2 linked regions of the Homo sapiens genome follow. The protein of the gene in region 2 purifies or fractionates together with the protein of the main gene of each other region. This does not show direct contact. Each region holds a gene or a part of one and is shown on either strand. Other genes may lie near its edges.

Region 1 (4,508 bases), on a different chromosome or scaffold from region 2:
CTGCAGTGAGGGGGCTGATATGAAAAGAAATAGATACTGAGGGAGATGGGTTAAAACTGCTTAACAAAAAGGAAATACCAACAAAGAAACAGGCAAGATTAAAAATAACACCAGTCTGTGCCCAGAAAGGTGAGATCCAGGTGAAGCATTCGTGGCTCCAGGGAAAACACTAGAGGCCAACACGTGAGCACACTCGTGAGACAGGGATGGCTAGTAGGAAGAGCTGACAGCCCCCAGCCAAGCAGGGAGACTTCTGTGAAATGGCCCTGAGGGACGAGCCCAGCTTCCAGGCTCCCACCCAACCTCAACGACCCACAAAGGGAGGCTGCCCTCCAGGAGGCCACATTCCTGTTCTCTGAGCCTTTGCCTATGCTGTTCCTTCTGCCCTGAATGCCCCCTACCCTCTCCCCTCCAGCCCCTGTGCCTAGCTCAGGCCTCCACCCTTGAGGCCATCCTGGAAGATGTCCCCGATTTTCCTGCCATCTTGGCACTGCTGTCCTTCATGTTAACTACCCACACACCAGTCCGTGTACCTGCTGAATGTTTGGATGGAGTTCCCCTGAGGGCAGAGACTGTGGCTTTTCACCAACATCTCTCTGGAGAGCTTTCTGCAATGGTGGTGCAGAGTAGGTACTGAGAACATGTGCAGAATGAACGCTTCTATTTTTATACAATGACAATTAGTTTCTCCCCCACCTTGCTGCCATGGTCATGTGTTTCTGCAACAGCAGATGTCCACTACATCAGTCAACATATTCTCTATCAAACCTCATTACTCCGCACATATGTGAAACTGATTTGACAATTTTGATTAGCAAACACTATAACCCTAAAACTCAAGCTGGTATCTTAACATATAATTGACAGTTTATTAAAAGGCAATCATTATATGGACATTTTAACAACAGAATACAATAATTCTTATCACCAATTCCTACACACGCACACACACGCGCATGCACACACACGGACTCTTTCTCATCTAGCATATATTAGTCTGCACATTGTGGCTGATGTATTCTGCCCTCTTTATAAAGCCAACTCTTTATAAAGCCACATTTCCCCAGCATGTTAAACAAAGCATGAAAGTCAATTTGAAGACACAGCCTTTCGAGTGGATCCCTTTAATTTGCTGGCTGTATTAAAAAGATAACATTAACATGCCTTTGGCAGATAGGAGGATATGCAGAATAAGACAATGTGCATACACACACACGCTCCTGTGATTTTAAACCGCAGGAGAAGGAGCTTCTTCCAAACTATCCCTCAGCATCCCTCTCCCCTTAAAATCTCATACTTTCCTCTCTTCTGTTGTTTTCTAACTAGGGCAATATGCTACCTCTATCCATTTCGTTTGTGTAGCAAGCACTCTGTTGATGCCCAGTTCATATAAAAATTCATGTCTAGAACCTTAAGAACAACCTACCAAGAAAGCAGCATCTAACAGATTTCTTTGCTGATAGTGATGAGGAATTTATCTATGAGACTGATGCACAAAATGAACTTAAATGTGGAGCTATTACTCACTTCAATTCACGGACGTCCACTGAGGTATAGGACAGCAGGGAAATCTTACTCCTGAATGCAAATGCTCACACTACTTACTGCTGACGTGAACACTCAGCTCACTCTGTCACAAACAAGATCTCTACACAATCACTTCTGCTTTGAAAATGAAATTAAATCTATATGGCTACTGTTGTATAGTCACCTCTCTAGTTGGGTCTATCTGCATTTATGAAACTGTCGCTTCTTCTCTAGGGGGAGAATCTAGCACAGAATGAATGAATGAATGAATGAATGAGAGATCAAGGACAGGGCAACAGAACAAGTGACTTATGTCATTAGTAGGCAAAGTAGACCTGGAGACAAACAGACAACCCATAGTTTCCCATCTGTAAAATGGGACAATCCTCATCATAAAGACATTACATCCACTATCATGTTATAAAAACAAAATAGGGCCGGGCGCGGTGGCTCACGCCTGTAATCCCAGCACTTTGGGAGGCCGAGGCGGGTGGATCATGAGGTCAGGAGATCGAGACCATCCTGGCTAACAAGGTGAAACCCCGTCTCTACTAAAAATACAAAAAATTAGCCGGGCGCGGTGGCGGGCGCCTGTAGTCCCAGCTACTCGGGAGGCTGAGGCAGGAGAATGGCGTGAACCCAGGAAGTGGAGCTTGCAGTGAGCCGAGATTGCGCCACTGCAGTCCGCAGTCTGGCCTGGGCGACAGAGCGAGACTCCGTCTCAAAAAAAAAAAAAAAAAAAAAAAAAAAAAAAAAAAAAAAAAAGATAATAATAGCTATTTTATTGAATCGTAAGGCATGCGATAATATATAACAAATGCCTGGTACATGGCAGTTGCTCAACAAGTGACAGTATTAGTACTGAGTAAATAACATTTGGCCCAAGACCAGTGAGTCATGCTGAAACTGCCAAAAGTAAGCAAAGTGAGTGTGCCCCTCAGAAGTGTCCTCATCCAGTCCATTGAAAAAGAAAAACTTTACTCCCTCTCACTACACAACTGGCAGCTCCCATAAAACTGCTAGGAAGCACACTGCATCTCCTTCCAGGACTTGAAATGGGTCGTGTTATGCAGAAAGCAAGTTATTTCCAGAAATATGCAATGTTAAGAAAATAAATCACATTCTATCTCCTTCAACATGTCAAAGGTCCACTGAAAACTCTTGCTAAGAACACCACAAAATCACGTTTTGTCATCCTCATCCGATGGCAACAAATACAGGTTGGATCAAGTGGTGGATGAGCCGGCCCTCCCTGTGCTCATGCCCTATTCTGTCCAAGAATCTACGGCAGCGGCCCTCCCTGTCCTCATGCCCTATTCTGTCCTAGAATCTACGGCAGCGCCCCTACAGTCTAGCCAATCACATCACTTCCAAACTCCTCAGCTGGGGCCCCTGCTGGTGTCCCGCCCATGCCTAAAATGCCCTCCTTCCCCTACCGTCTCCAGTTCTCTCCCCCCACCCCCTACCACCCTCTTGTAACTTTCACAGCCCATTTCAGCTGTGAACCCAAATGTAGTCCAAATGCATCGAATTCTAATAGTTTTAAATTGTGCAGTGTCGCACACACTTGAGTCTCTTATGGTGCTTAACACAGTGCTAGGGACATCATAGGTGCTCAAGAAACTTGTTGCTAGGAGCATAATAGCTGCTCGATAAAACCCTTCTTTTATCTACCAGTGATACTGAATCGCTGAACTGAGGTAAATTACTCCATGGATTCAATCCAAAGAACGCTTTTGTATTAATTACCAAACTACTTAAGGCAGGAATGTTTTGTCTTAATTATGTAGACTATTATTTTAATTGTCACTTCTCAACTAAATACTCCAACTCCACCCCAGGCTTGCAAAACTCTGCAAGCTGAATCTTCACAAACAAGGAGAGATTAAGGAAATATTCTTCAAGGTCTCCAACAGCATCCTGAAAGGGATCACTGAAGCGATTATGCGCATAACTCTTCAGCTTCCACATGCTGTCCGGAGGAATGCTCCAGGTATTTTGGTTTGAATTATCTACCTAGTCACCTCTACCCTCCCCTACTACCCTCTTGTAAGGTAAGGGATGCCCAAAGTGGTGTTTAGGGTTAAAGTGTTTCCAAATAGCAGGATTTGGAACTTGCCAAAAAGATAAATAAGAAACCAGCGGGGGAAAAAAATTGAAACCTTTGTCACCAAAATAATGTAAAAATGTTTGTCTTCGAAAAAATATATATCTATTTTAAATCTGCAACTGCTTTGCTAAGGTCTCAAGAACCCCAAAACTGAGGAACGTGGATAAAAGACTGGCAGAACCCCTCTGAGAGGTCCCTTCAACCCCGCGTTCTTAAAACATTTCTTTTCTTTGCCTGCAAAATGCAGCCTTCCCCCAGAATAATTCCATGTAAAAAGCCCCCACCCGCGAGGAAACATTAATCTACTTTGCAAACATGCGTTCCAGTCTGTGCCTTACTATTTTTTTTTCCACTCCTTCCACCCCCACCCCGCGTTTTTTGTACCTTGAGACAAATGTTTTTTTCCCTCAGAGTTGAAAGCTGTCCAAAAACAGGACCACACACGCCGCCGCCTCCGCAGCCCCGCGCTGCGCCCGCCCCCGGCCCTCCCCAGCGCGGCGGCCGCGGCCGCCGGGGGCGCGCACACTCCAGCCAGCCGGAGGGGTGGCCTCTGGCTCTCCCCGACTCCTTTTTCTTTGGACGCGGTGGGTGGGGGTGGGGGAGAGAAGAAAGCCGGGCCGCGGAGCGGGGCCGGGAGAGGCCAGCCCCGGGGCGCCTCTCGGGGCGCGGCCCAGGCGGACAGCGGCAGCGGCGGCGGGCCCGGGGCCCCCGGCGCGCAGAGTGGTCCGTCCCGGAGGGGCCCCGCGCCCCCGTCCCGCCCCCGCCGCTCTCTCCCACCACACCTCGGCCGGCGCAGCGCCCCGAGTAGATTACAGCGCGGCCTTTGTCGGGCGGGCCTGGCTCCCGGCCAGGCGCCCAAACAATAAACAAT
Region 2 (5,461 bases):
CCTAATAGGAAACCACAGTTAACAGTCAATCTCATAATGACTCAAAATTGGCTTTAGTTAGCCATGGGATTAAAACAAAACAAAACAAAACAAAACAAAACAAAAAAAACTTTAGCTCTAAATGTATTATGAAAATTATACAAAAGACCTACATACAGTCAAAACATGATTACTGCAATTTCTTTTAAGAGAGGAACCCAACCAAAATATAAAATAATTTAAAACATGGTGACTAGAGCTTGGAATTGGGAACTCAGGGTAGAAATCTGATCTATTTACTTTTATTGTAACCTTAAAAAGGACTCATACTATGAAAAAGAAAGTATGCCTAATTTTCAATAAACAGAAATCAAACTACTGATTTAGAGATCAGAACAATTCTAATCAAATTATAATATGACTTGAAAATATGTTAAGTAGAGGTATACACACTTGACACTTGGTATCCACAGTTCCTCATCCAGGGATTCAACCAACTACAGACCAAAAATATTTGGAAAATAAAAATAAAAAATAATACAGGCCACGCGTGGTGGCTCACGCCTGTAATCCCAGCACTTTGGGAGGACAAGGTGGGTGGATCACTTGAGGTCAAGAGTTCAAGACCAGCCTGGCCAACATGGCGAAACCCTGTCCCTACTAAAACTACAAAAATTAGCCGGGCATGGTGGCAGGTGCTTGTAATCCCAGCTACTTGGGAGGCTGAGGCAGGAGAATTGCTTGAACCTGGGAGGCGGAGGTTGCAGTGAGCCAAGATCACACCACTGCACTCCAGCCTGGGCAACAGAACAAGACTCCGTCTCAAAAAAAAAAAAAAAATTAAAAATTAAAAATATACTGTATAACAGCTATTTACATAGCATTTAAATTGTGTTAGGTATTATAAGTAATCTAGAGATGATTTAAACAGGAAGATCTGCATAAGTTATATGCAAATACAGGGAACTTCAGCATCTAAGAATTTGGATAGCCACAGGCAATAGGGGGTGTCATGTCCTGGAATGGATCCCCCATGGATATTGAGGGACGACTGTATTCACAATTAGGTTTAAAATATGCTTTCACCCACCAGAACCAACTCAGCAGAACCTCACTATAATTCTTATTACTGTAGAAGAAAACCTGCCATTTCCTTTTGGATGAACATCCAAGATTTAATGGAAGAAACAATAAAATGACCCCATTTAAAAAGGCGATCACACAGTAAGATGCACCCAGGAGGTAAATCATGGGTACAACATAGCAGTTAAGACTCTAATGTGGCCCTACTCAGGAGTTTAGTAATCTATTAAGAACTATAAAAATACCTCCTCCAGATTTAGTAGTCCCAGGGTTTACTGGAACTACTGCTCGGATGCTAGGACACCAAACCGAAATCCTGATAATGAGCTGTCGTTATATCATGGCCACATCTAGAAATCTAATTGCACAGTGAGAGTGCATAGGATGAAATGGGAAGGAGGAAACACTAAATCAAATCCAACCGCTCTGATCGGTCATCTGATATTATTTGACTGGTGTTTTTACACAGAGGGATAAATGGCACCTTTCCTGCAAAACTGTACTGTCACATACATAATCACATTCAGACATTCAGCCACATCATCATTTTATGAGCCAGTATCAGATGTTTTCAATACATTGCAAGCTATGTAATGTATTGCATACCATATCGAGCCACATGGTGAGGTTTAACCCCATTTTCTAAACGAGGATTCCCCATACCCACTCTCATACTCTCATAGTCACCAACAGGAGAGGGACAGTGAGAATGACGGAAACAGAGGTTACTGATAAACCCTATGTCCATTCCAGCTGAAACCACGCTCACTCCCTAATTGTTACTGCCTGTTATTCACTGTGTTGTTGTTTTGTCATACCCACATCCTAAGGCCAAAATCATGAAAAGAAGCCAAATTAAATGGGCAGGAAAAATGTCTTATCCCCAGCTTGCAATGCTATTTTTCTTTTTATTGGAATAAGAGACTGCCAAGTTCTGATGTCACTACAATAATTTCATGGCCTGATAAAAGCAGTATTTTATCCATTAAACATTCGTTCCCCTTGCCAATTTTACCTCTAACCAGGCAGTGTGTACAATTACTCACTGAACAGATACCAAACTACAGTAAAATAAAAAATTCTAATTACTTTTATTCTGATACTGTAAAAAGCCAGTAACTGTCAGAAATTTCCCTGGCAAGAGACACAATCCTGAATATGTTTTTTAGTACCTATATACCCAGGAGAACCCCTGCAAAATACAAAAAGACAAAACATGACATCAGCTCTCTGGGCACTGAATAATGTTGCACAGAACTACTACATACATTTTAAATATATAAAATTGTTAAAATATTCAAAATATTTGACAAGGATTCCAGTCATAGTGTGATAATGCATGTCCCAGCATCTTCAATATGTAACTGTTTTTTTCTTTATCTAAAGCTTTCGTTTATCTTCATTACTTGAAGCTGTGGTATCACTCCCTGAACTTGAGAGTCATTGATGTCACTGAATTTTTACGAGCAAAATCGTGTGTTGAAATCATTCATGGATCTAGAGAAGATGGTTCAGCATCTTTCTACTCAGTGTGCTCCACCCAGCTCATCAGTATTATCTGGAAACTTGTTAGAAAGGAAGAATATTGGGCCCCACCCCAGACCTACTGAATCAGAATATGCAGTTGAACACACTCGCTCACCCAGAAATTCAAATGCACGTTAATGCCATCCAGGATATCTGAGTGTTTAGTACTTGTTCAGCAGAGTGCAAAGAAAGGGGTGGGTGGGCCAATGGTACATAGGGGAAAATCACATTGTCCTTAAGGAATAAAGGGGAGACTGACACGTATGCAATTATGATACGTATCAGTGCCAGGAGAGATGCGTTTCCAGCCTGCGAGAAAGCATGGTATATTCATGGAAGGCAAAGCAGCCGGGATGGCAGAAGCTTCCAGTAGGCATATAACCCTGTACATCCAATTAAAGACCTGGGCTTCAACAAGTGAGCAATTCAGGGACTTTAAAGGATTTTAATGAAAGCAGTCACGTGATCACATATTTACATTTCAGAAAGATCATTACTCAGGCAAAATGTAAGAAAAATCAATGATCTGGAAGGGGGCAAACCAAAACTGAAGACAAGGGGATGAGTTAGTAGCAGTTTAAGCAGGAGTTGCAAAGGCATTTTTTTCATCTCACATGCTGAATCTCCTCTGTCCCTCTCCCAAAGTTTGAGGAGGAGGATGGAGGGGTAAGGTAATGGTAACAGACAAGAGATAAAGAAGGCCCACTTCTAAGCTACAGGGAGGATGGAATTGGTATGGATGGGCATACATAAATATAAAACAGTAAAAATTCAATATACTTTTCTGTTTTATAAAATGGAGAAAATATTATTTTGGTGGTTCAGGATCCCACAGTTCCTTCCATCATTTTAAATATCAGTGATTAACATAAAGTACTATATTTACAGATACAAGATGTGTACATGGTTAAATATCTATGGATCCCAGAAAAGATCTTGAATATGGTTTTGATACTTGGACACGTCTCTGATACCGGCCTTTCTCCTCCTATATGAGTTATTTATCTCTCTTGTAACTCAAGTTTAGAAAAGTTGCAGTGGAGGAGGGACAAGAGGGACATTTATTAATGTTTACATATAATTTGTTGTAGGAATGAATAAATAACTGGGCCAACAAATGGCTTCAGATGTGTACCTATATAAAAAGGTAGTACATGCTATACTTTTAAGTATTATCATTTCTGATACCAATACACTTAGAATATTGAAAAAGTCCCTATTTAAGTAAGGAAGAAAGAATACCCGACATTTACTTGTTAGTGATAAACTAAGGATTACATTTAAAGTGAAAAGAGCCAGCAAGTCGAGGCAATCTCCAACTTTAAACTGGAGCTGGTTTAAAAAATGTATTTATCCAATGGCTGTTGGTAACTTTTAACATATTTCCTACCTCCAAAATCATGTACGTGGTGGGTATGTAGCCTAGGCATACCATAAAAGCCTATTTCATGGAACCTCAGTCCTACAAATGCCTTAGAGGTTATTTGGTTCAATGTTGCACCCAAGAAAGAGATTCTTCCCACAGCAGCCTTTGCAAATGCCATTACAACACTTCCAGGAATCAGGAGTCCATGCCCCTTCCAAACAGCACTGCTTCACATGAGGCAGCTCTATTTGTTGGATAGTTCTTCTTTCTTCTGAAACATAATCTGCATCTTTGAGGACGCCTATAGATCAAAAGATGAATCATGTATCACTATTTCAACGCTCCCAACCCCCAATGAAATCCTGACCACGGATGGTCTGATTTAGGAAGAAAAGGGGACAATTTGCCCTTCTCCAGTCCAGAGGAACCCATCCTGCATATGGCTGTATGTGAAGAATGACCTTGTGTCAAGAGCTATGAATAGTCAGATTTAATAAAATTATAAATGTTGAAAAATACAATGTCTCCTGAGAGAAAAATGGCTAGTGTTCAAGCAGAACACCCACAAAATCCTTAATCAACATTTCCAATAACAGAAATACAAGCTATTAACCACAGCCAAAGTCCCTTCCAAAATTTAAAACAAACAAACAAAAACCCTTCTGATTTCATCTACTGAATCATCTTGTCTGTCTGTGAAATAAATTTTATTTAGCATATTAGAGAATTTCAACAATACAAACAAATTCTGAATGTATAGGCATAGCCTGACCACAATTGTTAATAGGTTAGTGGCCAAAACTCTTCTTCCTGATATAAGTGCTTGGTCCTGTTCCTCAAAATCTTCCTGCAGTATAACATCCTAGCTCCACTTTCTTCCTTTTATGGTGGACTTTTCTTTTTTCTTCAGAAAAGCATTGTACTGTTTCATTTTAAACTCAAAGAATATTATACTAATGCTGGACTGGTGGTTACTTCTGTACAACGCTAAGTGTTGATTACGGCATTTAGTCCTAAGCATGAAGGATATAAGCTACCTTAGATGGTCCTTTTCCCCTATTTTGAGGCTCCCTCCTAAAAACACACACATAAAAATGAATACAGTTTTCAAAGTATTTGGTTTATGGAATTGTAACTGAAGGTAATTATACCTTCAAGTAGTGAATAAACCCAGTTCTGTGAATAAAAATGAGGTCATGGTTGTTTTCCTAAGATAGCCATTGGGATCTGATTTTCTAGTAATGTAGGAAGAAGTGTTATTTTCTTTTTTCCCCCAAAGACTGTGTATCCAATGTGCCAATAAAATGAATTATTATGAATTTCAAACCGCACAAAAGACTCTACAACAATTTACAAAGCATGAATTAGTACTGTATACATAAATAAATGTTATTCAATAACATGAATAAATCTCACAGGCTTATGTCTATTACAATGCTCATTATTGAGCAGTGCAAGAACTCCAACATAAGACTACATACTGTAGGAGTCCATGTTCATACAGTT

The links. The genes of interacting proteins can lie anywhere in the genome.
Region 1: the proteins of CDON (region 2) and PTCH1 purify together in Homo sapiens (co-immunoprecipitation; one study listed by IntAct). This does not show direct contact.

The regions. Positions count from the first base shown.
Region 1 is NC_000009.12:95,501,773-95,506,280, forward strand, and holds part of PTCH1 (protein patched homolog 1), read right to left. Parts: intron 1-4,508.
Region 2 is NC_000011.10:126,052,020-126,057,480, forward strand, and holds part of CDON (cell adhesion molecule-related/down-regulated by oncogenes isoform 2 precursor), read right to left. Parts: exon of another isoform or gene 3,980-5,461; intron 1-3,979. UniProt on the Homo sapiens protein: Component of a cell-surface receptor complex that mediates cell-cell interactions between muscle precursor cells. Promotes differentiation of myogenic cells.